Regions from separate parts of the Homo sapiens genome. Here regions 1, 2, 4 and 5 are each reported to be linked to region 3. Evidence: microRNA targets listed by miRTarBase, many of them from high-throughput screens and not tested one by one. Region 3 holds a microRNA gene; each other region holds the end of a gene's coding sequence.
The links. Region 3 holds the annotated microRNA hsa-miR-5683 (UACAGAUGCAGAUUCUCUGACUUC, at 2,309-2,332, opposite strand). A microRNA usually pairs through its seed, bases 2 to 8, with sites in the 3' UTR of a target mRNA and lowers its output. Matches are read on the target gene's strand: a 7mer-m8 pairs with bases 2 to 8, a 7mer-A1 pairs with bases 2 to 7 and ends in A, and an 8mer does both.

Region 1: the mRNA of GPR141 is a reported target of hsa-miR-5683. Seed matches in the 3' UTR shown: 7mer-m8 at 2,093-2,099 and 7mer-A1 at 3,005-3,011.
Region 2: miRTarBase lists TCEA1 as a target of hsa-miR-5683. Seed matches in the 3' UTR shown: 8mer at 2,452-2,459.
Region 4: miRTarBase lists TSPAN2 as a target of hsa-miR-5683. Seed matches in the 3' UTR shown: 8mer at 2,207-2,214 and 7mer-A1 at 3,803-3,809.
Region 5: the mRNA of LY6K is a reported target of hsa-miR-5683. The part of its 3' UTR that is shown has no 7-base or 8-base seed match.

Annotation. Positions count from the first base shown.
Region 1 is chr7:37,739,774-37,746,438 of GRCh38, forward strand. It overlaps GPR141 (G protein-coupled receptor 141), which reads left to right. Exons shown (of 3, transcript NM_001381946.1): 3 at 607-4,062. The coding sequence starts at 621. The coding sequence ends at 1,538. Among named protein-coding and RNA genes, the nearest start is that of GPR141, 59 kb to the left of the region's middle.
Region 2 is chr8:53,963,315-53,969,979 of GRCh38, reverse strand. TCEA1 (transcription elongation factor A1) reads left to right here. Exons shown (of 10, transcript NM_006756.4): 10 at 1,868-3,424. The coding sequence ends at 1,876. It overlaps LYPLA1-TCEA1 (LYPLA1-TCEA1 readthrough), which reads left to right. Exons shown (of 21, transcript NM_001425842.1): 21 at 1,868-3,424. The coding sequence ends at 1,876. Among named protein-coding and RNA genes, the nearest start is that of TCEA1, 56 kb to the left of the region's middle.
Region 3 is chr6:6,166,675-6,171,674 of GRCh38, reverse strand. MIR5683 (microRNA 5683) reads right to left here and starts at 2,341; the gene lies at 2,266-2,341. It overlaps F13A1 (coagulation factor XIII A chain), which reads left to right. Exons shown (of 15, transcript NM_000129.4): 13 at 4,057-4,217. It overlaps MIR7853 (microRNA 7853), which reads left to right and starts at 2,240; the gene lies at 2,240-2,371. RefSeq lists an enhancer at 2,025-2,690.
Region 4 is chr1:115,045,446-115,052,110 of GRCh38, reverse strand. TSPAN2 (tetraspanin 2) reads left to right here. Exons shown (of 8, transcript NM_005725.6): 8 at 1,556-4,100. The coding sequence ends at 1,621. Among named protein-coding and RNA genes, the nearest start is that of TSHB, 19 kb to the right of the region's middle. RefSeq lists an enhancer at 4,904-5,440.
Region 5 is chr8:142,701,906-142,708,570 of GRCh38, reverse strand. LY6K (lymphocyte antigen 6 family member K) reads right to left here. Exons shown (of 3, transcript NM_017527.4): 3 at 3,444-5,480. The coding sequence ends at 5,200. It overlaps LNCOC1 (lncRNA associated with ovarian cancer 1), which reads left to right. Exons shown (of 3, transcript NR_038925.1): 2 at 153-256; 3 at 992-6,319. Among named protein-coding and RNA genes, the nearest start is that of LY6K, 5.1 kb to the right of the region's middle.

The DNA of each region.
Region 1 (6,665 bases), not on the chromosome of region 3:
CTTAGCAAGGCCTCACTCACTGCTAGAAGATAAAATAACTGTAATGAGAAATTCAGGTAAACCTTCCTATTGCTTGCTGCTCTCTTGACTTAGATGGTATTTTTGGTCAAATTAATCAGTATTCTAAATGAATTAAGTATGAATATTCTTGGGTCATTTGCTAATAAGTAAGAAAGAATTAGAGAATTATAATCATGCCCGTAAGAAAAAAAAATTGTATACTTCATGAATCCATCGATCTTTCTATCCATCTCACAACTTTTTAAAGGGTTACTGTAGTACTAGTATCCAAGTACTAGCTCCAGATGGTCTGCAATCCTCCTGAAGTTTTATGTAAATTGTCTTATCTACATACATCTCTCTGGGGGGCAACTTGAAGATTCAGATTCGATTTTTATTCCTATTAAAGAGTAAGAATCAATGGCTTACTGTGTTTTAGGTCTAGGGTATGCAAACATTCATAGGAAATAATCTTCATTCTTAAAGCATGTAAAGTTTATATCATATAAGCACATAAATGGCAAAGTCACATTGTCAGTGCTGTAAAAGAGATAGGAACAAAGCTCTGAAAGCTTGTCAGTTACTCTGGTGCTTTTTCTCCTCCAGGTGACTTCCCAAGTATGCCTGGCCACAATACCTCCAGGAATTCCTCTTGCGATCCTATAGTGACACCCCACTTAATCAGCCTCTACTTCATAGTGCTTATTGGCGGGCTGGTGGGTGTCATTTCCATTCTTTTCCTCCTGGTGAAAATGAACACCCGGTCAGTGACCACCATGGCGGTCATTAACTTGGTGGTGGTCCACAGCGTTTTTCTGCTGACAGTGCCATTTCGCTTGACCTACCTCATCAAGAAGACTTGGATGTTTGGGCTGCCCTTCTGCAAATTTGTGAGTGCCATGCTGCACATCCACATGTACCTCACGTTCCTATTCTATGTGGTGATCCTGGTCACCAGATACCTCATCTTCTTCAAGTGCAAAGACAAAGTGGAATTCTACAGAAAACTGCATGCTGTGGCTGCCAGTGCTGGCATGTGGACGCTGGTGATTGTCATTGTGGTACCCCTGGTTGTCTCCCGGTATGGAATCCATGAGGAATACAATGAGGAGCACTGTTTTAAATTTCACAAAGAGCTTGCTTACACATATGTGAAAATCATCAACTATATGATAGTCATTTTTGTCATAGCCGTTGCTGTGATTCTGTTGGTCTTCCAGGTCTTCATCATTATGTTGATGGTGCAGAAGCTACGCCACTCTTTACTATCCCACCAGGAGTTCTGGGCTCAGCTGAAAAACCTATTTTTTATAGGGGTCATCCTTGTTTGTTTCCTTCCCTACCAGTTCTTTAGGATCTATTACTTGAATGTTGTGACGCATTCCAATGCCTGTAACAGCAAGGTTGCATTTTATAACGAAATCTTCTTGAGTGTAACAGCAATTAGCTGCTATGATTTGCTTCTCTTTGTCTTTGGGGGAAGCCATTGGTTTAAGCAAAAGATAATTGGCTTATGGAATTGTGTTTTGTGCCGTTAGCCACAAACTACAGTATTCATATTTGCTTCCTTTATATTGGGAATAAAAATGGGTATAGGGGAGGTAAGAATGGTATTTCATTACTTGATCAAAACCATGCCTTGATGTACCCAAAACAAAAGGACTATAAAATGCAAGAGCCCTCATTGTAGTCCTTATGGGATCCCTCCCATCTCTGAGTGATGGCCGTACAAAGACCAGTGTTGTTGAATCCACCTGGAGTTGCAATATTACATTATTTTCCAGTACAGAATGTCTGTGTGGCCCATGAAAGCAACATAGGTTTTAAGAGTTTTAGAGTTTCATTAGCTCATTCTAAGTTCCTCTGTTTGAAGCATGGTCTCTTAGGTTTTGGACTGAACTCAGACCTTTAGTTCTTTTCATCCCACTTCACCTTAGGTAAGTAAATTCTGGCCACCACCCAGCTCCAAAGACACAAACTCTCCTTCGCTAACCAGGTTAGATGTCCCATTCATCTCATGCCCTGATAAAAACTGATAAGGGGAGAGAATAGTTAAAAATTTTTCTAGGGTATCATAACTCTGGTAGGAAGTCATCTGTCTAGAAATCAAGAGAAAAAGAACGTGTGGCCTCCTGTTATAACAAGGGTTTCTAGATTTGTCCTGTGAAAGGTCGTTTAAGGACTTGGGGATCAACTTCCTCAATTATCACCAATTGCACTGTTGCTCCAAAAATCATTTAAAAGCTTACTGGACATATCTACATAATGGTGAAACTGTAATTTAGAGACTATCCCTGACTAATGTGCTGGTAGGCATTAAAATGAGTTCCCAAGGGAAGTGATTAAAATTTTTTTCTCTTCTGTTTTTTGAGAGAATTTCTAGATGTCCTGGGCCACAGTTAATTAAGATTTTTAGGGGGGACAGAAAGTTATACTGAAATCTTTAGAGCTCCCTTCCGCCGTTAAAATTATATATATATATATTTAAATTATACCTTAAGTTCTGGGGTACATGTGCAGAATGTGCAGGTTTGTTACATAGGTATACACGTGCCATGGTGGTTTGCGGCACCTGTCAACCCATCTACATTAGGTATTTCTCCTAATGCTCTCCCTCCCCTAGCCCCCCACCCCTGGACAGGCCCCATTGTGTGATGTTCCCCTCCCTGTGTCCATGTGTTTTCATTGTTCAACTCCCACTTCTAAGTGAGAACATGCGGTGTTTGGTTTTCTGTTCCTGTGTTAGTTTGCTGAGAATGATGGTTTCCAGGTTAAAATTATATATTTTTAAATAAATGAAAACTGTGTTTTTAAAAGAGGACTTTTGAGAAGTATATAGAAAAACCATTAATTTAGACTCTGTGAGATTAGGTTGCATGAAGAAGGTTTTCTGAATATTTGAAGAGTGGATAAATAAATGTCCCCCAAAGCAATAAAATCATAATCCTTTAAAATATAGGAAAAATAACTAATGGGAACTAGGCTTAATACTCGGGATGAAATAATCTGTACAACAAACTCCCATGACACATGTTTACCTATGTAACAAACCTGCACATGTACCCCTGAACTTAAAATAAAATTTAAAGTAATAATAATAAAATAATATGGATTTTCTTTCCAAATTCGGAATTACTTTTTGTAAAATTGTATTAATAACTTGTGGCATGTGGCACGTTAAACTGATTTTATTTCAAGAACTTCTGTTACTGGCTAGGTTGATACATAGGCTTGTGGGTTTTTGCTTTTTGGGTTTTTTTTGCTCCTGCCCATACTTCCAGTGTCTTCAGTGTTTTATCTTAAAATTTTCCCAGGATCTGATCCAGTTTCATATTTAATGCTGCAGAAAACCTGAAGTGATTAGTAACATGAATAGAATAACAGAATGAATTAAGGGAACTTTTTTTTTCATCAAGGTATATCTTCGGGATTTAAAAGTTTTTCATAATTTATTATCACTGTGGATCCACAAATTCCTCAGATGAATAAGAAATACCTCTGTGAATTTCTGTGACCACTAAAATTACTGAGCCACAGAAATTAATTCTGAGGAAGCAGAAGTAGCAACATAGTTCAAACATGACTTGTTTCCATATATTTTCTGTTTTATATATTCTTTTAAATATCCTTTTAAACAAGTAATATTTCTTTTCTTTCTTGCCTTTTTTCCCATTTATTTTTTACATTTTTTCTTTCTCATTTTGAACCATAAAATTTGTAAGACCGTTACTAAGACCCCTGATAGTTTTAAGAAAATTTATAATACCTATAAATATGTAAAAAAAATTTAGAAAAATATTTAAATTAAAAGTATTCATGAGAATTTCATTACCTTGTAGATTATGTCATACTCTTTTCCAGATTTTAGATATGTTGAGGTCAGGCAATTCAAAAGAATTAATCTCTGTATTAATCTGTTATAATGTTAACATAACACTATGTTATTTTCATATATTATAATAACAGGCTTATTAGAAATGTTCTCAAAAGATAGAAATGCAATATTTCATAATATAAAATATCTTTTTCATCAGTATTTATGGAATAAATAGAAAAATTTTAGTTTTCCTGTTCTTTGTCTTGAATCAATACAGAAATGAACCTCATGTGACATTGGGAGTGACATTGGCCTCTAGGGCCATTTTTGGATATCACCATTATAAGAGAGCACTAGTATTAGCATTTGGTGGTGGGAGCCAAGGAATAGACATCTTGCCTTGCACATAATTGTCTGTACAATAAAGAAGTATCAGGTCTTGCTCTCTATTTGAATACTCTATTAGATATTAATGAAGTGAAACATATACTCATAACAATCAGAGCAGCTATCAGGTTTTACCCAGTTTTCGTAAACACGTAGTATTTTTTTTTGTATAGCTTTAATTCTCTGAATTTTCTGGAAATGCAGCTATCATGGATTGAAGAAAGATTTTACTTTGGTTTCCTCTGAGCTTTACCAAGAGTTGTTCAGTACTTTGGAAATGACATTATAAGTAACAATACCATTTATGACATTAAAATATGACACAACATACCTGTAAGCAATATTTGTAGCTATTGTATTCAGGAGATATTACATACAGGTGTCAGCATCAGACTCACTCATTTTGTCTCTTTATGTGATTATGCCTGAGCATTTACACACTGAATTATATACTGTTATCCATAACTTTTCTTTTCATTACTCATTTATATTACAGTGAGAACATTATACGTAAAAATAATGTGTATGTTTACATTATTAGTGTAGAAAGCATATACATTTCATTTTGAAATGGTAAAATTATCTGTAAGTTTCCTTTTAGAATGGTAAAAGTATTACCAAATATTTGTGATAAAAAGCAAGGTATTGGGTCTGAGAAAGCTGAGAACCACTGAATTACCACAAAGGGACAAAATAAGAGGGAAATTTATAAATTTTAACATTATAAACAGGAAAAATATTTCAGTGTTTTTGAAATACTTACCTCATCTTCATTCAATTCTAAATTACTTCTTTTGTTTCTACAGCAATTAAATGCAACTTTTAGAAAAATGTGAAGAAAATATACATGTGTATTTTCTTTTTTAATAAGAAAAATACACTTTTTCTGAGCCTCACCACTCTCAGATTGGCTCTTGATCAATATCTACCAGATTTTTAACCCAGACATAATAATTTTTGAGGCCCAGGGAGAAAGATCTCTTCAGGCACCCATTAAAAGGGACACTATTTGGCTCTTGTTTATTCCTTAATTTTCCTGTGAAAGGATCATTGAGTCCCCTGCCTTCCTCCTCAACTTCATTTAAATTAAGGAGAAATTGTAGGTGAAATGAACTTTGTGTAAAGTGATTCAAGAGGTGTTAATAAATCCCTCTTGCCTCCCCAAATCCTCCTCAATGAAGCTGCCATGAAAACTCGATTGTTGGGTTAAGAATCAGTTTTTCTGAAGGAGGGTATTGGGCCAATCCATTCTCAGTCATTGGCTTTTGGTGTGAAGTTAGAATTTGGGATGCTGTCATAGCTTTGATTGGATAGATTTTGCCCACTTTCCTCTATGAGACAGACATAGGCCAAAGACTCTCACACCTATTGGTACTGGTAGGAACAAGGAAGCTCTTCTTGTTATAGGGGCCAACTACAGCATTCTGTAGACAGTTGGTACTGAGAGCTCCATGGTAAAGGGGCACAGGGATGGCAGAACTGTGGGGATAATGCCCAGAGATTGCAACATGCCAAGGGACACCCATGGGTATTGGAAACCAGGGGAATCTGAAGACCCAGCAGGAGCTGCTGGGGAAATGAGACCCAGGTCTGAGAACGGCTAGCTGAGAGCAGGAGGGGCTTGTGTGAGTCTTGCTCAGGAGTTCTGAGCAAACAGGACTGCTCTTGGAAGACAGGGCAATGGAGGCAGCAAACAAAGACTGTTTTGAACAGGAGGTAAGAAAGTGCTGGCGAGCATGGTTTATTTTATTTGCAGTTTGTCCTAATAGTTTATGTCATTAGCAATGAATTATTTCTGCCCTTTGTTGCTGATCTGGGCCATAGATCTCATGGAGGACAGGGTGTGGTTACAAAGATGTAACCACTGGCAACCTGATCAGAGATTTTGGATAAAGATCTCCAGCTCATCCTTAAGTCAAGTAAGAAAAGAATCCCTTGGAATTTAGAGAAGGGTCTGAAGAGTTTCCCTTCTGTTTTCAGGAAAGCATCATCTTACATGTCAGGAGTAGACACTTGCCAAAGTCTACACCAGCCTCTGGCACCCTCAGGAGGGTCTGGAAAGACATCTAGGCCCCCTCTCCAATGATGTTCAATTCTGTATAACACAGCACACTTCTTACCACAGCCCAGCTGGGTACCCCATTCTCTGAGTTGTCCTTTGCCTCTCAGAATTCCATTATTTTCGTAGCATTGTGCTTAACAGTGGGACACACTACTGACCTGTACACTTAAGAACGGCTAAGATGGTTGATTTCATGTCATGCATATTTATCACAATAAACAATTTTTTAAATTAGAAGATATATATATATCTTATATATATTTAGTTATATATATAACATTTATATATATATATATTTAGAAACTTTAATAGGCAAGAACTGAGCTGATGGAGAAAGTTAAAATATTAGAAAGAAAAAAGCTAGTCTGAGACATAGAAAGACTTCAGTCCTCCTATCAA
Region 2 (6,665 bases), not on the chromosome of region 3:
TTTTAGAAATTACAGATGAGCACTGCTGTCATTTGGTAGGCTTTTCACTAAGCCTTCATATTGCCTGTGTGCTCTTGAAATTAGTCCCACACAGGCAAGTTTATATTATTTAAATGATTCATTCTTGAGGGATTTTGTGAAACAAAAGCATAAAATTTAAATTTGGGAGCAGAAATACATATCAGTACTAAAAACATTTTAATCATTATTATAGATGAGGATGTTAAGGGTGTGAGTTTGGGAGGCTTACGTGGTAGGAGTTTAGTCTTTGGAATCATACAAACTGATTTTGAACTCCTTTGCCACTTCCCATTACTGAACTATATTGTTCTTATGTATTAAATGTAAATAGTACCTACATTTCGGATTGTGATGAAGAGTAGAGATAATATATTTAGTGTGCCTGATAATTGTTGGTGTTCTAAAAATGCTGGCTATTTTTATTAGTTTTTCTGAAGTTTGTACAAGATTCTTTTTTTTTTCATTTATACTTACATAGACTTTTCAGTTTAATGCTCATTTTGAATTATTCACTTAGCTTAAAGCACTTTCTGAAAATCAGAAATGAACTAGAAGCCATTTGGGCCAGAGTCCCAAACCATGTCGAAGATATCCATTTGGCTTCTTCAACTCCACTTTAAGGGGTTGGGGCCAGTACCTATTTTGTTTTATTTATTCATTAATTTTTTTGAGATAGATCCTCACTGTGTTGCCCAGGCTGGAGTGCAGTGGCGCTATCTCAGCTCACTGCAACCTTCGCCTCCCAGGTTCAAGCGATTCTCCTGCCTCAGCCTCCCAAGTAGCTGGGATTACAGGAATGTGCCACCATGCCCAGCTAATTTTTGTATTTTTAGTAGAGATGGCGTTTCACCATGTTGGCCAGGCTGCTCTTGAACTCCTGACCTCAGGTTATCTGCCTGCCTTGGCCTCCGAAAGTGCTGGGATTACAGGCGTGAGCCACCGTGGCCGGCCCAGTACCCTTATTACGTACAAAGATTTAGTTCTGAGCTGGAAAGATTACTGCTACTGAAAGTGTCTTCATGGTTTGAAACAGTATTTCCTACCCATCTCAGGTTGCAGAAGTTGTCATTGGTCTAGGAGAGGGACATTCACCTTCTTTTTCAATCGTGTTGAGAAAATTTGGCCTGTTCTCTTGGATTTGTTTTGCATGATGGATCTTTTTTGTTGTTGTTGTTGTTTGAGATGGAGTCTTGTTCTGTGGCCCCGGGTTCAAGAGATTCCCCTGTCTCAGCCTTCCGAGTACCTGGGACCACCATGCCTGGCTAATTTTTTGTATTTTAGTAGAGACGGGGTTTCACCACGTTGGCCAGGATGGTCTTGATCTCCTGACCTCATGATCTGCCCATCTCGGCCTCCCAAAGTGCTGAGATTACAGGTGTGAGCCACCGTGCCCAGCTGATGGATCATTTTTATTATGGTGATGAGGTGTACAGTGCAGTTTGCTTTGAATACATGCACTTTGTGACACAAGTTTTGACATAGTACTTAATTGAATTTAAGAAAGTTCAATTTTAGGATAGAAAGCTGATGCCTAGAGTGGCATATTTTAGAAGTTCAATTTTGGAATTGTTATTTTTTTTTTTTTAACCTTAAAAACATTATAAAGAGGTATTTAATAAAAATGCTGAAATTGTTTTATACAAGTTCTTTAGTTGTATGTTCCTAGTAGTTCTAAGTTGGGAAAGTCAGGCACTTAAGATAGGTGATTATTATGTGTGAAAAATACAGCATCTTTTTCAAAAATGCATCTTTTTTAAAAGCAATATCAGGTGTATGCTGTATTAAATGGGGAATGTACCTTATTGGTATTTAAAGGTCTTACAAAATATTTTTTCTTTTTTGACAGTTCTGTTGAGTTGGAAGAATTGGCAAAATATCTGGACCATTAAGAAAACGGATTTTGTAACTAGCTTTAAACTAGGCCAAGCAACTAGTTTTCCTGCAAATCAAATTTTTAAAGCAACTTGGGTTAGACTTTGTTTTTGACCTAACATCCCTTCCTTAAATGCCTTCTGTAGTTTCAGATCAGTAGGGAGACCATATAATAATTTTATGGTACCTGTTTCAAAACATATTTTTTCTGTTTTTATAAGTAAGTTGATATTAATTAAACTCTTGGCAATATTTCTTCTTTCTTAAAGGAAAATATACCTTAACTTTTTTTCTTTTACACTGTGAAACATACACAGTAGAAATTCTGTTACTCTCTGTTATTAATACATAAATGAAAATACATTTTTTTCCATATTGGCATGTAGCTACAAATATTAAAGGAGGAGAAAAGGTAATATAATTTTAGGTTTACCAAATATGGTGTGTATTCAAATAATACTTGACCAGCTTATCTAAAATGTACATAATTTTGAGGTAGCTTATGAATTTGATTTTAATTATTATGTTCACAAGCTTGGAATATTAGATATTATTTTGCATCTGTAACTAACCGTGATCATCATTTCTTGTAATTTCTTGTACATGTATATTACTTGTTCTTAATAGATTTTTGGAAACAAGACTTTATTGAGATCAGTTTGGTTTTCCTGTTAATTTACCTGTTTGACTTTATAATGTGTTTTAGTTTTGCAGAAGAACACTGTTGTAGTTTAGAAGGCTTTTCATAAATCCCCTCATAGGCAAAGATGAAAACTTCCCACTATTTTTTTCCCCTCTTAGGAAGACATACTGGAAAGAAAATGTTTAGCATCTTAGTGTAGTATAGCTATTGTAAACAGTTCATGACTAGATTTTGATTCGGAAATCTATACTGACCAAGGATTAATCTTAAGGATTGTATAATTCATTAAAGCTGTGGTCTTTCCATGTGGAGACTGATAGAAAATAATTTTGTCCCAAGTCTTATTTGCTGACTTTTTCTGTCATGAGTGAGATTGTTGAACAAACTGAATATATGGGCTATAGCAAGTAGCTTTACAGTACAGATCTTACAATTAAGTTTTGCTTTTGTTAAAGTGTGTACCATTTTTTCTGTTTGGAGTAAGACAAAAATTGTTTTGACATAGGTTCCCTAGGGTACACTTGCTCTAGCATACTTTAAAGGCCACTGTTGCAAAGTCTACATTTTATGCTGAATCTGCATTCTGTCAGGCACCCGTAGAAAGACCTCAGTACATGCTTTGCACTCTCCTTTGCTCCCTTTTTCCAATTTCTTATTGCATATCATTTTGTTGTAATACAGAAAGCAGCATTTTTAAATGTCCGTGTTAAGAATTGGCCCACTGGTACCAACTCACCTCTATTTTGTCAGTTCATAGTTGAAGATTTTGTTTTATTTCAAAAACAAAGTACATTTTTGAAATAATGTTTCAGAATAAAATAATCTCACTTTTAAGTGATCCATTTTAAAATTTGTAATTCAATAAAGTTTTTTTTGTTGTTAAACATATATCACATTTTGTCATTTTATTTAGACAATGAAGCTTGCTTTACCTTTTGTTTAACCACACACCTGCTGTCCCCTCAACTACTAAGGTATTTCTAAAGTACAGTTTTAATTAAGTGAAGCCTGGTCTTCAGTAAAAACTAGTATTCAGCAGCATTACAGAGCATGTTTTCTTTCTTATCTTTTCCTGGACCTCTGGCGATGGATGGAATGGCAGGTTCTGAGTAAATACGTGAGTGCATCCCATGTGTACACTTAATTTAATGTGAGAGACCAAATAGTGAGTCTTGCTATTGGAAAATACTAGACTTTATTTATTTATTTTTTTATTTTTTTGAGATGGAGTCTTGTTCTGTCACCCAGGCTGGAGTGCAATGGTGCAATCTCGGCTCACTGCAACCTATGCCTCCCAGGTTCAAGCGATTTTCCTGCCTCAGCCTCCCAAGTAGCTAGGATTACAGGCGCCCGCCACCATGCCCAGCTAATTTTTGTATTTTTTAGTAGAGATGGCATTTCACCATGTTGGTCAGGCTGGTCTCGAACTCCTGACCTCAGCTGATCCACCCACCTCGGCCTCCCAAAGTGCTGGGATTATAGGCATGAGCCACCGTGCCCGGCCCAATACTAGACATTTGTAAAGTAATCAGAAGTAAATATTAAGGGTAGTATTTTATGATATTTACTTTGAGGGCAAAGTAACTTTGTTAAATGAACATGCAAAGGAATTAGACAAATATACTAGCAGATAATGAAGAACCATCCTGGGGAAAGCAGAAAATGATAATCTTGGTTTTCTAGCTTACCTGGATGATGACGAGCATTGGTTTATAAATTTTGCTAAGCTGTGGCAAAAATTCAGAAATATTTATATTCACCCAATCACTTAAACCTATATGTAATCTTACAAATGGCAAATATTTTAAGTATTAAGAAGACAGCAAAAGAAATAACAGGCTGTGCTTTGAATTATTATAGCTACATAGTCGTTGTCCTTGTGGGTCAAATTGTAATTTGTGGATTTGAATTGACTTTATTTCTTTTTTCTTTATTTCTTTTTTTTTCTTTTTTTGGAGACAGGGTCTCACTCATTCACCCTGACTGGAGTGCAGTGGCACAATCTGCTCACTGCAACCTCCACCTCCTGGGCTCAAGTGATCTTCCCACCTCAGCTTCCCGAGTAGCTGGGATTATAGGTGCACGCCAGCACACCCAGCTATTTTTGTGCTTTTATTAGAGATGGGCCATGTTGCCCAGGCTGGTCTTGAACTCCTGGGCTAATGCAGTTTGCCTGCGTCAGCCTCCCAAAGTGCTGGGATTACAGACTTGAGCCACTGTGCCCAGCCATTTCTCAAAATAAAAACTACAGTTAGAGTTGTGATTTAGAGAGTTTCACTCAACAGTTGTTCCCAGGCTGGGCTTGGTGGCTCACACCTGTAATCCCAGCACTTTGGGAGGCTGAGGCAGGAGGATTGCTTCAGCCCAGGAGTTCGAGACCAACCTGGGGAACAAAGCAAGACCCTGTTTCTACAAAAAATAAAAAAACTAGCTAGGCATGGTGGTGCATACCTGTGGTCTCTGCTATTCAGGGGGCTGAGGCAGGAGGATCCTTTGAGCTCAGAAGATTGAGGCTGTAGTGAGCTGTGTTTGCACCACTGTACAACACCCTGGGCAACAGAATGAGACCCTATCTTAAGAAAACAAAAACAAAAAAACAAACCAGACCAGTGAGGTGGCTCATGCCTGTAATCCCAGCACTTTGGGAGGCCAAGGCAAGAGGATTGCTTGAGCTCAGGAGTTTGAAACCAGCCTGGGCAACAGAGCGAGACCCTGTCTCTATATAAAATTTTTAAAAAACAAAAAATTGTTTTCTATCTCCCCTTTATTTAGTTGTATTTAGTTGTAGAAAATTAATGATTCAAAAGGAATTGTATATCCCACTGGGAAACCCGATGGGGATAATCACTGAATTACTAGTGAAAGCCACATATGAGGCCAGGCACGGTGCCTCACTCCTGTAATCCCAACACTTTGGGAGGCCGAGGTAGGTGGATCACCTGAGGTCAGGAGTTTGAGACCAGCCTGACCAACATAGTGAAACCCTGTCTCTACTAAAAATACAAAATTAGCTGGGCATGGTGGCACATGCCTGTAATCCCAGCTACTTGGGAGGCTGAGGCAGGAGAATTGCTTGAACCTGGGAGGTGGAGGTTGCAGTGAGCCCAGATCGTGCCATTGCACTCCAGCCTGGGCAACAAGAGCAAAACTCTGTCTCAATAAAAAGAAAAAAAAAAGCCACATATGAAAAACAAAGGACCAATGTTAAGGATACTACTTCACAGGAAATAGGACAGAGTTACTGACAAATTCCTAGGAAGTAATGGAAGAATTATGTTGAACAATGTTTAAGTAAGTTGAAGTCAATAAAAAGTAATAGTGAAATTGAGTGGAAAAAACAGCTTATAATCATGGCTATATTCGATAATCAACAGCTATAACTTAGTAGAGGTGGAGTTAAGTTCTTGTGGGAAATGTGTTCACTGCTGTCTCTAGCATCCAGAAGAATGCCTGTCACATAGGTGCTCATGAAATAGTTTTTCTTGGATATGTCTTTATCAATGTGTTACATGATGTTCTTGGCTGTTCAAGAGCTAAGATATAAAGAAAGAAAGAATGTTCCATGGGTCGAGGACTTGCAGAGGTAGAGTGGATAATTAATGGTTGGTCATGTTTTAGACTCCAACTTTAAAATAAGGAATGTAAGGAGTTAGAGTGTTGGGAGATCCCTTTTGGTGCTTTATTTCTGCAAAGTGATGCAACAGTTTCAGTGTACTCTTGGTACTTGTTTATCCAGCTGGAGGATGGAAATTGAAAGCACAGGGAGCTGTCTCAGGTGACTTACCTTGTTCTGATTCCTCTCCCTGGATGCTATATAAAGATAGCTAATTTTTATTTTTCCCCTTAATGGCCATGATTCCAAAGAGACACATTTCATATGTGATATCCCATACAGTCTGGTTAAATTGGTCCAAGTGTTTTTATAATTGGGTGACTGAACTACTTTGAAGTAAACGTTATTTGTGTGATAATGCCAATGTGAAAGTATAGCAGGTATTAAAAAAGCAAAAACTGAGAGCACTGGAGTTTGGACTGTGATAGGTATAGCTTCTGTCTCAGCATTAGTGAACTCATGAATGAACTCAGCATTAGTTCCCAAATGCTTTCCTAATTTATTTAGGGGCAGCTT
Region 3 (5,000 bases):
ATGTGGCATAATCTAACTTAGGTTTTGAAAAGACCACTGGCTGCTGTGTTGAGAAGAGACTAAAGAGGAAGTAGGGCGGAAGGTTAGAGACTGGTAGGATGCTTCTGCAATCACTCCACTGAAAGGGGTTGATAGCAGTGATGGAAGCAGCGAGAACCAGTCCGATCTGGGCATGTGCTGAAGGTGGAGCCCGCCTGATTGGCTGAGAGACTGGATATGTGGTGTGAGAGAAGGAAGGTATGGAGGAAGCCAAATGAGTGATGAATGTGAAATGTGTGCCACATGGTAGAATCTTAGTAAATGGTAACTTCCAACATGTTTACATTTGGGGAAACTGAAGCTCGAGAGATGAGTCGATGTGTTCAAGCCCCCACACAGCAATGAGAGGCAAAGCAGATAATAGAGTAGACAGATAATAGCAGTGACAGTGAGCCAGTTCAGGGTAAACTTGGCCCCAAGTGGGCCAGGTCCCTTCCTTGTGCTCCCATTACCTGGAGTCTAGCACAGATCCTTAGACAAAGAACCAAATGCCAGCCCTTTTCCCACCTCACAAGTGTCCTGTCTCATAATCTCCTTCCCCTTCCCTCTTTAATCCAATTAAAGAATGAGCTTGTATGGGTGAGTAGAATGATATCATTCTCTCAGTCATCGACCTAGGGACAGCTGACCAAACCTATGCCTGAGTCCATAGGAACACATCTCCCATTCGCTTGGCCAGCCCCAGGTTGTCCTGAATAACTTGAAGGGAACTGGAGACTCTTTGTTCCTTTGCCCTGCAGGCAGGTGGTATTAACTGTGACCAATAAATTGTATATTGAAATATAAATTAAATTGCAGTGTATTGCAAAAAGCCACATAACTTCAGGCCTTGATCAAGCATTCTTAGATGCCTCTGCTGCAAAGAAAGCTTTCCAAGTAGAATGGGAGGCATACTTTCCAGATTGATGATTAAAGGGAATGTGTGTGCTGGAATCAGCTTGGGAGATCTGAATAACTTAAACCTCTCCGTACCTTCAAAGGTGCTATCATTTCCACTTGGCTATATTTAGTTTTCTTTGCTTTTTGGAAAAGAGATGAGGCAGCTCCAGTCTGTGTCTCCCTTGGCTTTCCCCAGACACCGTAAATGATATTGGCAGCATCCCAGCCCTACCGCTCATAGAGCGAAAACCTATTCCTCCTTCTCCTGCCACGTTTAATAAACTTTATCTAGAACAATTTCTTGTGCAGTGGCAAAACACAGCACTTACATAACATACTATTTCAGAAGCACTGTTCTCTTGGGCTCTGAAGCACAGCCTGGTTTCTTTAGTGCTATGATTTAGGGAGTGTTCTACCTCAGAGAAGAAAGGGGTCCTGATACTGAGATTATAAAGGTAGCAAGAGCCTCTGTAAAGAAATCATATCCCATTAGCCAAAAGAAATCCAGTGGTCAAACATAGTCCTCTAGAAATAGTCAGAAGAAGTCATTTTATTATTGTTATTACTGGAAACAGCTAGAGGCAAAAGGCATCTTCTTCGAGGCCTTCCACCTTGCCACTTCATCCATTCTATCTAGAGACACGATAAACTGACCATTTGTGCTCATCTGAGGCTGTAACCAATAGAGGGCCAGAACCTCACTCATCTAAACAATTAATTGCAAGGGGAGCCATGGAGGAAGCAGGGTCCAGGCTTAGGTCCAAAGACAGCAATACGAGAGCGGGTCATTCCAAAAGGCAGGACCTGGGGGCCAAGGTCAAGGCAAGGTCATAGCTTTAAAGAGTCAGCTCTAAATGGAATAGCTCTGCCCCAGGAATCAAGCCAACAAAGCTAGCTCTTTAGCGCTTGCCCAAAATAGGCCAATACATTCTAATAATCCACCTGCCCTATGCGGGGTTTCTTGGTTTCAGCACCATTGACATTATGGGCTGGATACTTTGTTGTGGGACTATCCTGTGCATTGTAGGATGTTTAACTGCATTTTTGGCCCCTATCCACCAGATTCCAGTAGTAACCCACCCTCCACCCCAGTTGTGACAATCAAAAAGTTCTCCAGACATTGCCAAATGTCCCCTGGGGATAACATTGCCTCCTATTGACAACTACTAGTCTAGGATGACCAACCTTTCTAGTTTTCCAGGGATTGATGGGGTTCTCAGGATGCAGGCCTTTCAATTTAAAACCCAGGTAGTTCTCAGTCCACCCTAACTCTGCCCTAACTTACCCCTTCTGCTGTTAGAACCTCCTGTCTCTCAGAGTATCTCACACTTCAATAGGCATTGTCTGGGGTCTTATTCAAATGCAGATCCTGACTTCACTGGTGCAGTAAGAAGTCAGAGAATCTGCATCTGTAACAAGCTCCCAGGTGATGATGGTGCTGCTGGTGTGCAGACCGCAGGAGGAACAGCAAAGACCTGGACTGGAAAGCCATCCCTTCCACTGGAACCCAGGCTGTCTGCAGGGCTGATTCTACAGGGATGCCCCTGGTTGTTGGAGTGGCCCTTCTCAACCCTGGCTGCACATCAGAGTCAGCTGCAGAGCTGTTAAAAATACAGATGTCTAGGTCCTCCAAGGCTCTGATTTAATTGGCCTGGAATGAGAGCCAGCTTGGTAGGTCTTTAAGGGTCCCCAGGTGATTGTGATATAGAGCCATGACTGAGAACTCTTCAATCAGAAGTCCTGGAAGCAAGGCACAGCACTTACGCATCTGTAAAGAGACTTCCAAATAGAAGTGCTGCCCAAGACAGAGGCTTTCCCAGCCTCTTGGTCTTCAAGGTCCAGAGCAAGCTGCTGCAGATCCATCGCAGGTGTGAGAGTTCCTCCACAGATGATGGGCATGGCTCAATGCACCCACACCTTCGAGCCAGTGGGGAGTCAGGGGCCCTGCCCTCTGCTCTGGTGCATGCCCATCCACAGGCACCCCACCCTGCTGCAAAACTGCTGTTCAGTACAGCAGGCTAAAATGAATTACCCTCTGTGCTCAAACTGTTGGCCATGAAGCTGTTTCCTTCAATAACTTCCACAGGAAGGGGAAGTCTTTGGCAAAAGCCAGAAACTGAGAAGGAAAGCAGTAAAGACATTCAGTTCTGTGAAGGTTCATAGAGTCTGTTCTCTGTGGCTGGGGATGGAGGAATGAGTCACCCATTCACCTGCGGAGTCTGCCAGCTGTCGGCACATACAGGCATCTGGCTCCAACCAGGTAGCAGTGGGTGCACACCTGGGCTCAGCCTACAGAAAAACTGCCCATTGCTCTCTAGAATCCTGGACAGTGGGAAATGGGAGTTAGAGAGAAAGTGAGCCAGAGCCACAAGATAGAACTCACCATCCTCAGCCCAGATGGTAATTGGAGGGGAGCCAGGACCACTCTCCATCTTCCAAATGCCATTCTCATTGGCTTGTCCCCAGGACCTAGAAATCTGACATCAGTGACTGGTTTCCATTGAGAAAACAATTGTTTGGCACAGAGGTCTTCTAAATCACAAACAGAGGTTCGGAGATAGTTGAATGCCTTTGGTAGAAACTGGTTTCAACAGCTTCCTTCTCTTAAATAGAAAAATCATATCAGATTGGAGAGAAAATGTGGAATGCTACAGAGAAAATGTGTAGGTAGTTGACAATTTAGTCTGAGTGTGGCCCATGGCCTAGGTGAGACACTTCTTATTTGACAAGGGATCCTATGTGGAATGGGGGCCTTGGACTTCAGCACCCCACATGTTCCATTTTGGGATGATCCCGGCCCAAATCAAAGCCACCATTAAAACCCATTGGTCCTTCTTTGCCATGAAAATCACATCTTTTCCATGGCATTTCTTTTACAACAGCAAAAGAACTGTTTGGAAGGTTTGACACATTTTCTCCAGTGAGACTTCAATGAATATTAAATTTCCAGCACATTCTTTACCTAAGAAGCAGGACAGCTTATCCCCAATTGACTCTTTGTTCCACTTGCCCCTTACCTTTGCTGTGTTCCTGGTGGCTTCCAGGCTAATGTGGGAGGGGTAGGGAAACTTGGAGAAAAGTAAAGCAGACCCTGTCTCAAGTCTTGATGCCAGGCCTGTGTGTGTTTTCTCCTACTAGTCAAGAAAGAGGCGGTGCTGATCCAAGCCGGCGAGTACATGGGTCAGCTGCTGGAACAAGCGTCCCTGCACTTCTTTGTCACAGCTCGCATCAATGAGACCAGGGATGTTCTGGCCAAGCAAAAGTCCACCGTGCTAACCATCCCTGAGATCATCATCAAGGTCAGTCTTAGCGTCTCATCCTGGAACAGAGACAAAGGCACGCAGACTTAGTGTTCATGTGTGCATATGCGTGCTTGTATGTGTGTGTGTGTGTGAATGAATGTCCTGCTCAAAAAAAAAAAAAAAAAAAAATACCAGTGCTAGGATCCTCTTGTTCTTTGAAAGAAGTAAACTGCCCTATATATAGACACATACATATAACACTTTCCTCTCCTCTCCAGATTTAAATATATAGATGTGGCTGCAGATATAAATATAACCTGTGGGTATAAACACACTTGTGGAGGAAGATAAAGATGTGTAATGGCTACAGATACTTAGAACTTTCAGTGTCTCCAGAATAAAGTGGGTCAGGCATGCTATAAGAGGTAGATAAACTGCCTGCAACATTTTGGACAGTAATATTGTTTATGGAGGTATAATTGTGGATAGTAGATTGCACAGATCAAAATATACAGCTTGATGATGATTTTGTATGTGCGTGTGCCTTGCAACCACAAGCCAGATGAAGAAATGGAGGATTTCCAACACCCCTAGAAGGTTCCCTCTTGCCTTTTACAGCCAATAACCCCCTAGACTATCACCAAGATAGTAACTTTTCTGACTTTTATCACCATAGGTTTGTTTTGCCCATTTGACCAGTAGTTTTCATGATGCCTCTCCAGTGATCACCAGAAATCTCTGCCCAAATGGCTCAAGAGACTTGGCAGAGGAAGGCCGAGGGTTGATGAGAGTGGAAGATAAATGTGGGAGCCTCTGTGCTCCTACTTCTCAGGCCCACAG
Region 4 (6,665 bases), not on the chromosome of region 3:
CTGAGGCAGGTCTGAGCGTGTGCTGCATAATGGAGAGTTTCACAATCTCAGCAAATGAGCAGCCTAGAAGCATTCACCCCTGACTCGTGTCGGCAGTAGGCTGAGACTGAAGGAGTCTCACTGAAACCAGGATGGGTAGGGATTACATCCAACCTTATGGCAATGATAAAGGGGAAATGCCCATAGTGAGCCTATCTTGAGTCGGCACCCCCAGGTTTCTTCGTTAGTTCTTTTCTCTGTAAAGTGAGAGTTGCACAATGTAATCAGCTAACTAAAAGTGCATTGGGTGTCGCCCGTGCTACACACTGGTACTGAGTCCTGTCATCCAGAAGCTTGAAATCCTGTTCCTGGCCATGCCCTTACCTGCTTCTGCCCCTCCCTTTTCAAAACAACTGATCATTCATATCTTATTGAATTTAGCACTTACAGATCCTAGTCTGACTTAGGATGGAATTGAGGAGAGAACCAGAAAGTTATAGTACCCATTTTTTAAAATAAGCATTGACAGTAGTTTATGGAATGGTGCCCACAGATAGGGTTCCATGGGCTCTACAAAATTGTAGGGGAAATAATAGCGGACAAGAAGACTCTTTGGCATTCTTCTATTCAAACCATGGAAGTGGATATTGATTTCACTCAAGTATTTAACTTCTCAGAGAACTATCCAAAAGGTAAAAGTCAATAATACCATAGTATAAACCCTTTAGTTTATGTTTTGCTAAAACTATTGAATTAAACAGTGAAGCATCGTTTGCCCTTAAAAATGGACTGAGAATGAAGTGATGCTCCACTTTTTTTTTCTTTTTTTGTGAGACAGGGTCTCTGTCACCAGGGAGTGAAGTGGTGCAATCACAGCTCACTGCAGCCTCGACCTCCTGGGCTCAATAATCCTCCCGCCTCAGCTTGCCAAGCACCTGGGACTGCAGGGACACACCACCATGCTCAGCTAATTTTTGTATTTTTTGTAGTGACAGGGTTTCACCATGTTTCCCAGGCTGGTCTAGAACTCCTGAGCTCAAGCGATCCTCCCACCACAGCCTCCCAAAGTGCTGGGATTGCAGGCATGAGCCACTGCACCCAGCTGATACTCCATTTTTGGATGTATGGACACTGTTGTAAAAAATCAGAGCTTTTCCAGCAATAGAAAATTATTTAGACCACAAGCATATCTAAACAACAAGTGGTTATGGACACAGTTTTCAAAATAAACATATAAAAGAGATCTAGGATTAACCTGAAATATAAAATTCCAAAGCCAGTATTGTGTCTGTCTTTCACAGGTATTCAGAACGGTTCTATAATTCTGAAGCAGGGTAGGTTCTTTTAAAGCAGAGCCTTGTTACTTGTTAACAATAATAATACACATTTAAACAGTTAATCTAGAATTATTTACCCCATAGCCAACCTTAAGTAACATACTAAAATGTCATTTGTGACTGGTAATTATTGGTTATAATTATTTGTTAACTTGAGTTAGACACCCAGGAAGTCTGCTGAACTTTTTACCTATCAGTACCCGTTTCAAAGTCACTGATGAGTGTTTCTTCTGTTTCAGATCTTTGGCATGATATTCAGCATGGTCCTCTGCTGTGCGATACGAAACTCACGAGATGTGATATGAAGCTACTTCTACATGAAAATTGCAATCTAAAGCTTTCATACCAAATGTCACAGGAGCTGTCTCCCAGCTCATTTTTAACACTGAAATGACATTAGGATCTAAAATAATTTGCTGTCAATTGTACATTTGCATGAGTACGTATGTTTGGCTCATTACTGGTTTACCCCTTGAGTGAATGCCTGTTTATGATGACTGAGAGCATATTCATGTGTGATCTGCGTGTTTCTGGAATATGCTTTATACGTAATGAAATCTGTTTGCTGGGAATTCCTGATTCTTGTTATATAAGAAGAACAACCTATTTCGCTCCCAGAAAAAAAAGATCAAAGAGCTTTCAGAAACTTTGAGAACTTGGCTATTTAGAAAAAGTGATAATGGGTCAGTTTCTCAGACTGTAGCCATTGAAAATTAGATGCAGAGAATTCAGAGATTTCTTCTTAATGGAAGTAATAAGCTGTAAGAATTGAGAGATCACAATGGAGTGTTAAAACTGACTGTGTCTAAGTTGGGTGTAAGGGTTTCCTGGGTTTTTTTATATACATGCTCTCCCCAGAATACAGTAAACCACAGTTTTAGAACTAAACACATCTGTAAAACTAAATATAGCATGGAAAATCCAATTTGAATAAGTCATGCTTTCCTAGAATTTAAAAATAAAAAAGTCTTCCTCTGGAAAGAGAAGTCACACAGACAATCATGTGCCCTATAAAAGTGAGTGTTTATAGGACTAAAAAACTTTTAACAACTTTTTAAGGAAATATTTTTGTTCTTATACAAAAACATGTAAATATTGCTTTATTACTTTCATTTTCTGACCCTGCTGTAAACTACTGCAACCCTCACATCCTCAAAGGGACTTTTATGTCAAACTCTTCTGTTTCTCCAAATATAAGGAAAAAAGACTAAAGCAAGAGATCTGGCAGTTGAAAATTGTGGGAAAGAGAATTTGTATGGGCACTGTATCTATGAAATACCTCATAACTTACGTTTACATGTTTTCCTAACTTTTTGTATTTTTCTTGTATAGCCACCTAGAGAATTCTTCATAGATTAAGAACTACAGTTTTCACCACTTAACATAAGTAAAACAAAGTCCTTCATAATTTAACCATTAGCATCTTTGGCCAAACCAAAATAAAGAAAAGCATCTTCTCCTAGTTGTGTGTGGGCAACAGAAACAAGTTAAGGAAACAAAAATACTTATATATACACAGAACAAAAATAATGTTCTTTTTATGCAAATCCCCTGTGAAAATAAAATTTTCAATGTTTTTTTGGTCTTAACGCTTCATTTTAACTTAGTAAACCCAAATTTAGGATTTACATTGGCAAATTTTTCAGTGATTTTTAACGTGTTACATTTAGTAAACCATAGATTTTTTAAAAACTACATTTTGTAAGGCCACACATAAGTGAAAATACGGAAGGCTTTGGAAACCCCCAGATGAACTTCTATACATGTGAAAACACAAGTCTTTGAGTGTGCACTAAAAGTGTCACACTCCCAAAAAACTCACAAAACATTTTGCTAAAAAGATATGACTGCTTGAAATAGTCTCTCTCCCATGGAGAACCACATTTCTCTTTCTGCCATACTTGCTACTGCTACTGATTTTGGAGGAAATTTTTCTAGAAGAACAAAGGTCATATTTGAGGCAAGCTAAAAACTTAATTATACATGGCTACTTTACTGTGTCTGTAGCTAAAGAAAAATTATTTTACAAAAATTACTTCATGAAATATAGTTTGTACCCCAGTAGTTGAGAAATGTGACCTTTTAGGCAAAGAACAGGCAGTCCATCTCTCTTAGCTTTAGTTTATCTCTCTGCCTGAAGACAGGAAACAGGCCCAAGTGCATACTCGGGTTCTTTCCAACTCAGAATCATCTCTGATTCCACAAAAGTGAGTTTAGTTTCCTATCTGAATTAACAACTTTAAAGGAGACTATAATAGTTAAAAGTGGAAGAATAGAAATAAATAAATTTAAAATGAAATTAATTAAAGTAGAAGAGAAGGGTTCTGTTCCATGTACGATTAATGTGCCCCTTTTGGAGATAAGCTTTCCAAAATATGCGTATGAGTAAAATTAGAGAATTCCACCACTAAGCAACAATAGATTTTATATGTGTGTGTGGATATATATACACACACACACAGAAAGATGAATATATATATATATATATCTGTATAGACACACATATAATATATATAGATATATAATCCCTATATATCTTGAATCTACAAATATCTTTATATGTATATAATTTGAATATATACATGTATGTATATACAGATGTGTGTGTATATATATATATACATACACATATACATAAATTTTCAGCTATTTCTGTTCCCCTGAACTAATTTGAGATTAGACCCAAACATGCTTTTAAATGTCTCATGCCAAGGCACTGAATTAAGACTTCTTAATGTTGAAATATTTTAAGTGATTTCATATTAAATTTTCTATATACTGAAATTGCTTGTTTGATTTATCTTAAAGTCCTATTATATCTTTCTACAAACCTTCACGCAACTTATCTAAATGTCAAACTACCAATCAAATAATGTGATTAAAAAAAAACAGAGTGGTAACCCTTCTATAATTTGCTATTGGTAGTTGACTTAAAAGCAACACCCTAAGGACTCTTACTGCATATACAGTCATCTGTCAGTATTCATAGAAGAATGGTTCCAGGACCCCCTGTGGATACCAAAATCCACAGATGTCCAAGTCCCTTGTATAAAATTGTGTAGTATTTGCATGTAGCCTATGCATATCCTCTCATATACTTTATTTTTTTAATTTTTATTTTTTTATTGTTACATAATAGTTGTACATACTTTTGGGATATATGGGATATTTTGATATTAGCATACAATGTGTAATAACCACATCAGGGTAATTGGGATATCTATTACCTGAAACATTTATCATTTCTTTGTATTGGGAACATTCCAGATCTTCTAGGCCTTTTAAAACATATAATAAATTGTTGTTAACTATAGTCACCTTATTGTGCTACCAAATATTAGAACTTATTCATTTTATCTAACTGTATTTTTGTACCCAGTAATCAATCCCTCTTCATCCCTCCCTGCCTGCTACCCTTTCCAGCCTCTGGTAACCACCATTGTATTTACTACCTCCATGAGATCAATTTTTATAGCTCCCACATATGACTGAGAACATGATTCATCTTGATGATATTTGTCTTTCTGTGCCTGGCTTATATCACTTAATATCCTCCAATTCTATGATGTTGCTGCAATTGACAGGATTTTATTCATTATTCAGCCATTGTCATGGCTGAATAATATTTCATCGTGTATATATAGCACATTTTCTTTATCCATCTGTTGATGGACTCTTGGGTTAATTCTGTATCTTGGCTATTGTGAATAGTGCTGCAATAAATATGAACATGCAGACATCTCTTTGATATACTGATTTTCTTTCTTTTGGATATATACCCAGCAGTAGGATTGCTGAGTCATATGGTAGTTTTCTGAGGAACCTCCAAACTGTTTTGCATAGTGGCTGTTGATTGTTTCCTTTGTTGTGCAGAAACTTTTTAGCTTGATGTAATCCTATTTGTCAATTTTTACTTTGGTTGTCTGTGCTTTTGAGGTTTTACCCCAAAAATATTTGCCCACACCAGTTTCCTGAAGCATTTTCCCAGTGTTTTCTTCTAGTAGTTTCATAGTTTCAGGTCTTATATTTAAGTCTTTAATACATTTGAATTTTGTGTAGGGTGAGAAATAGGGGTCTGGTCTCATTCTTCTGCATGTAGATAACCAGTTTTCTCAGCACTATTTGTTGAAGAGACTGTTCTTTCCCCAGTGTAAGTTCTTGGTGCCTTTGTCAAAAGTGAGTTAGCTGTAAATACATGGATTTATTTCTGGGTTCTCTATTCTGTTCCATTGGTCTATGTGTTTGTTTTTATGCCAATACCATGCTGTTTTGGTTACTATAGTTTTGCGGTATACTTTGAAGGAAGGTAGTGTGATGCCTCCAGCTTTTATTCTTTTTGCCAACGATTGCTTTGACTATTCAGGAGTTTTTGTGTGTGTGTGGTTCCATGTGAATTTTAGCATTTTTTTTCTATTTTTGTGAAAAAATGTCATTGGTATTTTGATAAGGATTGCATTGAATCTGTGGAACACTTTGGGTAGTATGGTCATTTTAACAATATCAAGTCTTCCAACCCATGAACATGGAATATTTTTCCATTTTTTTCTGTCCTCTTCAATTTATTTCATTAACATTTCATAGCTTTCATTATAGAGACCTTTCACTTCTTTGGTTAAATTTATTCCTAAATTTTTTTGTAGTTATTGTAAATGGGATTGCTTTCTTGATTTCTTTTTCAAATTGTTCACTGCTGGCATATAAAAATACTACTGTTTTTTTATTTTGATTTTACATTCTGCAACTTTACTGAATTCATTTATCAGTTCTAACAATTTTTTTGGTGGAATCTTTAGGTTTTTCTAAATATAAAACATGTCTTCTGCAAACAAGGATGATTTGACTTCTTTCTTTCCAATTTGGATGCCCTTTTTTTCTCTCATTGAATTGCTCTGGATTGAACTTCCAGTTCTACGTTGAATAGAAGTGGTGAAAGTGGGCATTGTTGTCTTTTTCCACATCTTTTAATTTTTGGCCAGGTGCAGTGGCTAACGCTAGTAATCCCAGCACTTCGGGAGGCCGAGGCAGGTGGACCACTAGGTCAGGAGTTTGAGACCACCCTGGCCAACATGGTGAAACCCTGTCTCTACTAAAAATACAAAAATTCTCTGGACATGGTGGCACATGCCTGTAATCCTAGCTACTTGGGAGGTTGAGGCACGAGAATTGCTTGAGCCTGGGAGGCAGAGGTTGCAGTGAGCCGAGATCACACCATTGCACTCCAGCTTAGGCGACAGAGTGAGACCCTGTCTCAAAGGAAAAAAAAAAAAGAAAGGCTTTTAATTTTTTATTTTTCCGTGTTCAATATGTGATGTTAGGTGTGGGTTTATCTTAAATGGCTTTTAATGTTTT
Region 5 (6,665 bases), not on the chromosome of region 3:
CGCCACTGCACTCCAGCCTGGGTGACAAGAGCGAGACTTCATGTCAAAAAAAAAAAAAAAAAAAAGAGATGCATCCCTTTGGGAGGCACCCCTCATGAATGTGATTCATGCCTTTATGAAAGAGACTGAAGGGAATGTCTTTGCCTCTTTAGGTCTTTCCAGAGACACATAGAAGGTGCCATCTATGAGGAACAGGCCTTCACCAGACATCAAATCTGTTGGCATCTTGATCTTTGACTTCTCCACCGCCAGAACTGTGAGCAATAAATTTCTGTTCTTTACAAATTAATTAGTCTAAGGTCTTCTGTTATAGGTGGCTATCTAATGGGGCAGATTGTTGGGAACAAGTTTCTATACTCTTTATTTTTCTTATACTACATGACTAAATTCTCCACTTTAATGTTTTATTGCAGTGGTAACAATGTATAGGCTTATCATGTTTTTGCACTTAGATAGAACACTTCTAATGCTTCACCACTAAGTATGGTGTTTGCTTGAGGTTTCTGGTAAGTAACTTTTTTCAAAATATTGAAATTGCCTTCTATTCTTAGGTATCCAGGATTTTTAAAATGTTATAACTGAACGTTGATTATCATTTGGTTATTATTGCGTATTCTCTTGCTATGGTGAGTGGTATCTTTTCCTAAGATTTTTATTGTTCTCGCATTTCTGGGATAAATTGTACTTATCATAATGTATTAGTATTTTCATACACTTGGATTTGATTAGCCAATATTTTATTTATCTTTTGTTCACAATTATGATGGCTTCTAATTTCCTTTCTTGTGCTGTTTCTGTTTTATAGTATCAGTTTTGTGTTTGACCATAAAAGAATTTAGTCAGTAATAGTTTTTTAGTGCTTGAGATAGAAAGGCATTTCAGAGACCTGGACATGTTTGTTTGACCAAGCAGAGCTTTCAGAAAGTCTAGCTGTTTGGAAATTTATGAATTACTTCATGTGTATTACAGGAGGGTCGTTTTCTGTTTTCAGAGATCAAGACATGAAACCCATGTTCAAGATACTTTCCAGTGTGTCTTCATGTGATCCTCTGAGTCCAGCCATCAGGCTACCAGCAGCTCTTGGAAACCCTGACATACTTATTCTTAGAAGACTGCTTTCCGGACTCAAAGTGGAACCTCAAATTTTCAATTTTCTTTGTTTTTAAAGCCTACACATAGGTGATGATATATACATGCATATATATTTTGGAGAATTTATAATTCTGAAAACAATGCTGGTCTTATGGAACCCATCCATTCCCCTTTCCCCGTGTGTGCTCCGAGCTGTGGTGGCACGTGAAAAGGGGTCCTTCCAGCAGTGGCCCACAGCCCTGGGCTGCTTACTTGCTCACTTCATTTACAAGAGCAAGAAATACACATTCTTGTGTTGTTTAAGTCATTATGATGTGGGGATTTCCATTACTCACACACCTGATCTAGTAGTAACACAGTAGCCTATTTTAGCAATATCATTTATTCAATAATCCATTCTTTCCCCATTAGTTTTGAGCCTTCATTTATTGTGTACTAAGTTCTGGTTATTTTTAGTGGTTGTAATCTCCTTCTTTCCTACTCTCTTAATCATGGGATTGCCAATATCTGCTCTGTGTTTCTGTGCCATCTATAGCCTCTGGCCTTGGTACTGCTTCAAAACTGATATTTCTAACCTTACTTTGACTTCTCCATTCAGTGAAGTTCCCATAGTTCATCACTCAACTGCTCTCTTTCCATCGTGACCTTCTGAACTAGCTCACACCCAGATGTACTTTTGTTATCTGCCTTTCCCCCTCATAAACATGGGCTGCTGCTGGGGAAAATCCACTACCGAACTCTTGCAGGTCTCTGCAAATGTTTAATGCCCTGTCTTAGCCATGACCTCCACAATGCTGGGCTATCCTATGTTATGTCCCCTAAGATATCCCTTCTCTCTTACCTTTGGGGATAGTCCTAAGCTTCCATCATGGCACTCAAAGTCCAACCTTATTTGTACCCTCATTCTCTGAGCAGACACCACCGTATTCTGTTTCACAGAGAAAATGTGACTGCTGGGGATAATTCTTTCAACTTCCTGGCCTCTTCCTATACATGATCTTTCTCTGTATTCTTGCCTATTGCTCTTCCATGTTGATAGAAGTGTCTGTTCTCCTTGTCAGTGTCTCGGCCTTGGATCTGTCCCCTAGACTATTCTGCCTGTGTAAGGACCTTCCCTGACCAGCTGGGCCACCATCTCCTGCTTCTCCAATCCCTCACTCTAGACTGACTCTTAACCTTTGGTCAACAATACTTGAGCTTTTACATTCATAATGGAGCATCTGTGTTGAACCTTGTTCTTTTCTAGACACTACCCTCCGTTCTGTCTTCCATCCATGGTGACTTTTCTAGAAAGAGCATCTATCACACTGGAGACAGCAAACTCCTTGATCCATTCTAATTCCTAACCCTGCAATAATTTTCTATCTCCCTTACTCAAGTAATTGGGAGTGCTCCTAGTGTTACCAGAGACCCAGCAGTTCCCAATTTCGAATTTTTCCGTATTCACATTTCTTGACTTGCTATGATTTTACATCACAGATTACATCCTTCATTTGAAGAGACTCTAATGGAAGGCTGCCATGGAAACTCTCTCATGTGGCTGACCTCCTACCTCACTTGCTCTTTCTGAATGAAGTTCCCACTTTTGCCTGCCTTAATGAAAGTAATGCTCCCCAAACTCAAGCCCAGGGCTGCGAATTGGAAGCAGCTGGGGCTACTGTTTCTGGGTGCTGGTGTGAATGGCAGGATGTGAACACCAGCCTGTGACGGGCAAAAAGATGGACACACAGGCAGAGCCTGACAGGTGCTGGTGGTCCTATCTGGTCCTGAGTTGCTGGGACCCTCCTTGCCCACTGCCCCTAGAATGGACTTTGGCCTCAGGTTCGAAGTGTTCAGATGTGACTGAGATGAGCCTTTTCCCCATGCCTCAGGAATAGCGAAGAAACTCTATCTGGAAGGTTCCCCAGGCTTCCCCACCCAGCAGCCTCTGGTATTAGACCAGGCAGTGGCTGGCCAGGATGGTGGGGACAGAAGGGAGACAAAGGTGAGCAGTGGGTGGGGTCACATCCTCCCTGACATTGAATAGACAACATGGGGAGGAAGGATGAGTGATCTTTAGAATGTTCATGGAAAATGCATATTGGGAAAAAGAATGCATGAATTTCAAATTGTTTTGCAACAAAATAAACTTGTACTAACTTGTGAAAACACGTCCGAACAGGATCTAGTTTGAGGCCCTAAGAAGTATAAGACAACAGTTTGAACAGAGCTCCTATCAGACACATGAATTCTGCTAAAATTGAAACCAGAACAAACATGCAATTGATGGTGAAGCTTGGCTGGAAACATGGTGAAATCATTGATGATTTATTGAAAGTTTATAGGGACAATGCCTCAAAGAAATCAGCAATTTAAGTAAGTGGATAACTCATTGGAAGAAGAGAAGAGATGATGTTGGAGAGGAAGTCCACAGCAGCAGGCCAGCCACATCAGTCTGTGAGGAAACAATTCATCTTGTTTGTGCCCTAATTTAAGAGGACTGATTAATAGCAGCAGAAACAATAGCCAACGCTGTAGGTATCCCAAGGTGTTCAGCTTACACAATTCTGACTGAAATTAAAGTTGAGTAAACTGTCCACTCGGTGGGTGCCAAAACTTTCTCCCAGCTCAGCTGCAGATAAGAGAAAAGCGTTCTATGGCCATTTTAAACAAGTGGAATCAAGATCCTGAAGCATTTCTTCATATAATTATAGCCGGAGATGAAATGTGGCTTAACCAGTACACTCCTGAAGGCAAAGCACAAGCAAAGCAATGACTACCTAGAGGTGGGCGTGGTCCCATCAGAGTAAAAGCAGACATGTCAAGGGCAAAGGTCGTGGCAACCGTTTTGTGAATGCTCAAGGCATCTTGCTTATTGACTTTCTGGAGGGCCAAAGAACAGTAACATCTTATTATGAGAGTGTATAGAGAAAGTCAGCCAACGATTTAGCAGGAAAACACCCAGGAAATCGTCACCCCGGAAAGCTTCACCAGAGAGCCCTTCTCCACCATGACAATGCTCCTGCTCATTCCTCTCATCAAACAAGGCCAGTTTTGTGAGAGTTTCAATGGGAAATCACTAGGCATACACCTTCCAGGCCTGATTTGGTTACTTCTGTTTTATAATTTTAAAAAATCTTTAAAGGGCACCCACTTTTCTTCAGTTAATAACGTCACAAAGACTGAAGTGGCATGGTTAAATTCCCAGGGTGCCCAATTCTTTAGGGATGAACTGAATGGCTGGTACCATTACTTGCAGAAGCGTCTCGACCTTGATGGAGCTCATGCTGAGAAATAAAACATTTTTTAATTTTTATCTTTTAATTCAATTTTTTCGTGAACTTTTGAAGTCCCCTTGTATTTGTTTTTGGTGGAACTTTGAGTCTGATTTCTCAGCTCCCCATGGATGGCTGCATCTTAACAGAGAAATGAACGCCATTTACCCTGATGCTCTCTACTTGGCCTAAGTTTCAGATGTTGAACACACACGTGTGGGAATTTATGAATCTGTGCACCTGTGCCAGCTGGTGGGTGAAGTCTAAGTTTCTTCAACACAATTAGTTATCTTCTGCCTCCTGGAATCTGGTAGGAAAGGTTGAGGAAAAGCAGCCATCCACAGCGCCTCCACCACTGGAATGGGGGCAGCCCTAACGTGTGCCCCACTGCCCCCCATGCTGAGGAGTCCTTCACTCCAGGGATGTCTTCACCCCAATCATTCAGACTCCCCCAGTGTTCCTGCGTCACCTGAAAGGTCGGAAGCATCTCAGCACATACTCTCCATGAGTGGTACTTAGGCCTCCCTCCCCATCAATACTGAAGCCCTCAGAGGCAGAGGGGAGTCAAGGAAAAGAGTGGCCATCAGCAATAAATGAGTTACAAGGTTTGATTTCAAAGAGAAAAACTTGTCACCAAAATCACTACTCAGGAGATCTGGACTTCCTCTGAATGTGAGTTAAAGAACCCTTGAGGGTTAAGAGCCAACTGCACCTGATCCCCACTCTCCCATCCCAAGACCCTGGGAAGTCAAACCAAGAGGTAATCAACAGAAAACAAGTTTAATGCAACAGGTGACAACGGTCTGGAGCGAGTCCATGCTCCGGAAGGCTCAGTCTGTGGCAGTCCCGTGGCTCAAGACAGGCTGAGGCCGGCTGCAATGGAGGCCAGCAGCAGGAGGATGGCCAGCCACAGCCCACCACAGCTCTCACCCATGCTCCCAGCATATTCTTTGAACACTGATGAGTTGATAGGTGGCCCCTCTAAATTGCAGTAGCGAATTTTACAACACTTGAGGTAAAAGAAGGGCATGGGCTCTTCCAGGAGAAACCGCTTCTCCTCTGGCTTGGGTCTCTCCATCGCTGCACAACCAGCGGAGCACTGCTTCGCAACCATGAAAAAACGTGGAAATATTTCTAATAGGAAATAAAGACCGAGAGAAGGCAATCACGCAATTCCAATGCCTGACACCGAGGCCCTTCTGTCTGGGTCAAAGCCTCACCCCTGGCGGCCCTGCTCAAAGGTGCACAGTCAACTGGGGCACCAAGGGGGAGTCGGGAGGACGAGGGCCAGGCCTGTGTGTTGAATGCTGCTTCAGGGAAGGGCTGGCTTCTGCGTGGTATGGCCTGTCCATATGCACTGGGAATGCGGGTCTAGGGGTTGCTGTTTGGGAACAAACAGGTCTCAACTTCTCAAACACAGGGTTGGCTCAGGCCTTTGTGACCACAGACAGACACATGACTCCCAGCCATTCTGGCCATCACCCAGGGTGTGGAGCTGGCCTCTTGGTGGGCCTGGCTCGACTCTGAGCTGGGGGTCTTGTCTCATGACCACACTTCATCTTATACATCACTGTACAAATCATTTTGCCATATTAAGTTATAAAGTCGATGTGGGCCACACTGAGTCTGAAGCATCACCTCAGCACCCCACCAACTTCGTGGATACCGAAGGGCTGGAGAGTGACTGCTGGGCGGAATCAGAATTCACGAGCCCTGAAGATCTCCCTGTGGGCAGAATGTGCTGGGTGTCCAGATTCCCCTTGGGGAGGGCTTCATGTACCCAGAGGTTTTCAGGGGAATCACAGATGACAGAGCAGTGGTCTCCACAATTTTTAAGGCATGCACCCTCCTTTGAGAACACACTTGAAGGCTGTACACCTTGGTTTTGTGCATCTCTTGTAAGAGTGACATAGACACTGTTCTCTGTGGCGCATTTAACACTATTAAAGCTTAATTTTTCATTTAAAAATGGATGATATGAAATCCAGATTTTCTTCCTACCTCCCAGTATTTCATCTGGACCCACTGTAGCAGGCACTGCCTTACACTAGCACAGTTCCTACACCTCTCTCTGGCCTCTGAGGACTTTGCTCTTCACATTTTAAAGGGAAAAAAAGGCAGGGCGCGGTGGCTTACGCTTGTAATCCCAGCACTTTGGGGGGCCGAGGGCGGGTGGGTCACCTGAGGTCAGGAGTTCGAGACCAGCCTGACCAACATGGTGAAACCCCACCTCTACTAAAAATAAAAAATTAGCCAGTGTGGTGGCGCGCATCCATAATACCAGCTACTCTGGAGGCTGAGGCAGGAGAATCGCTTGAA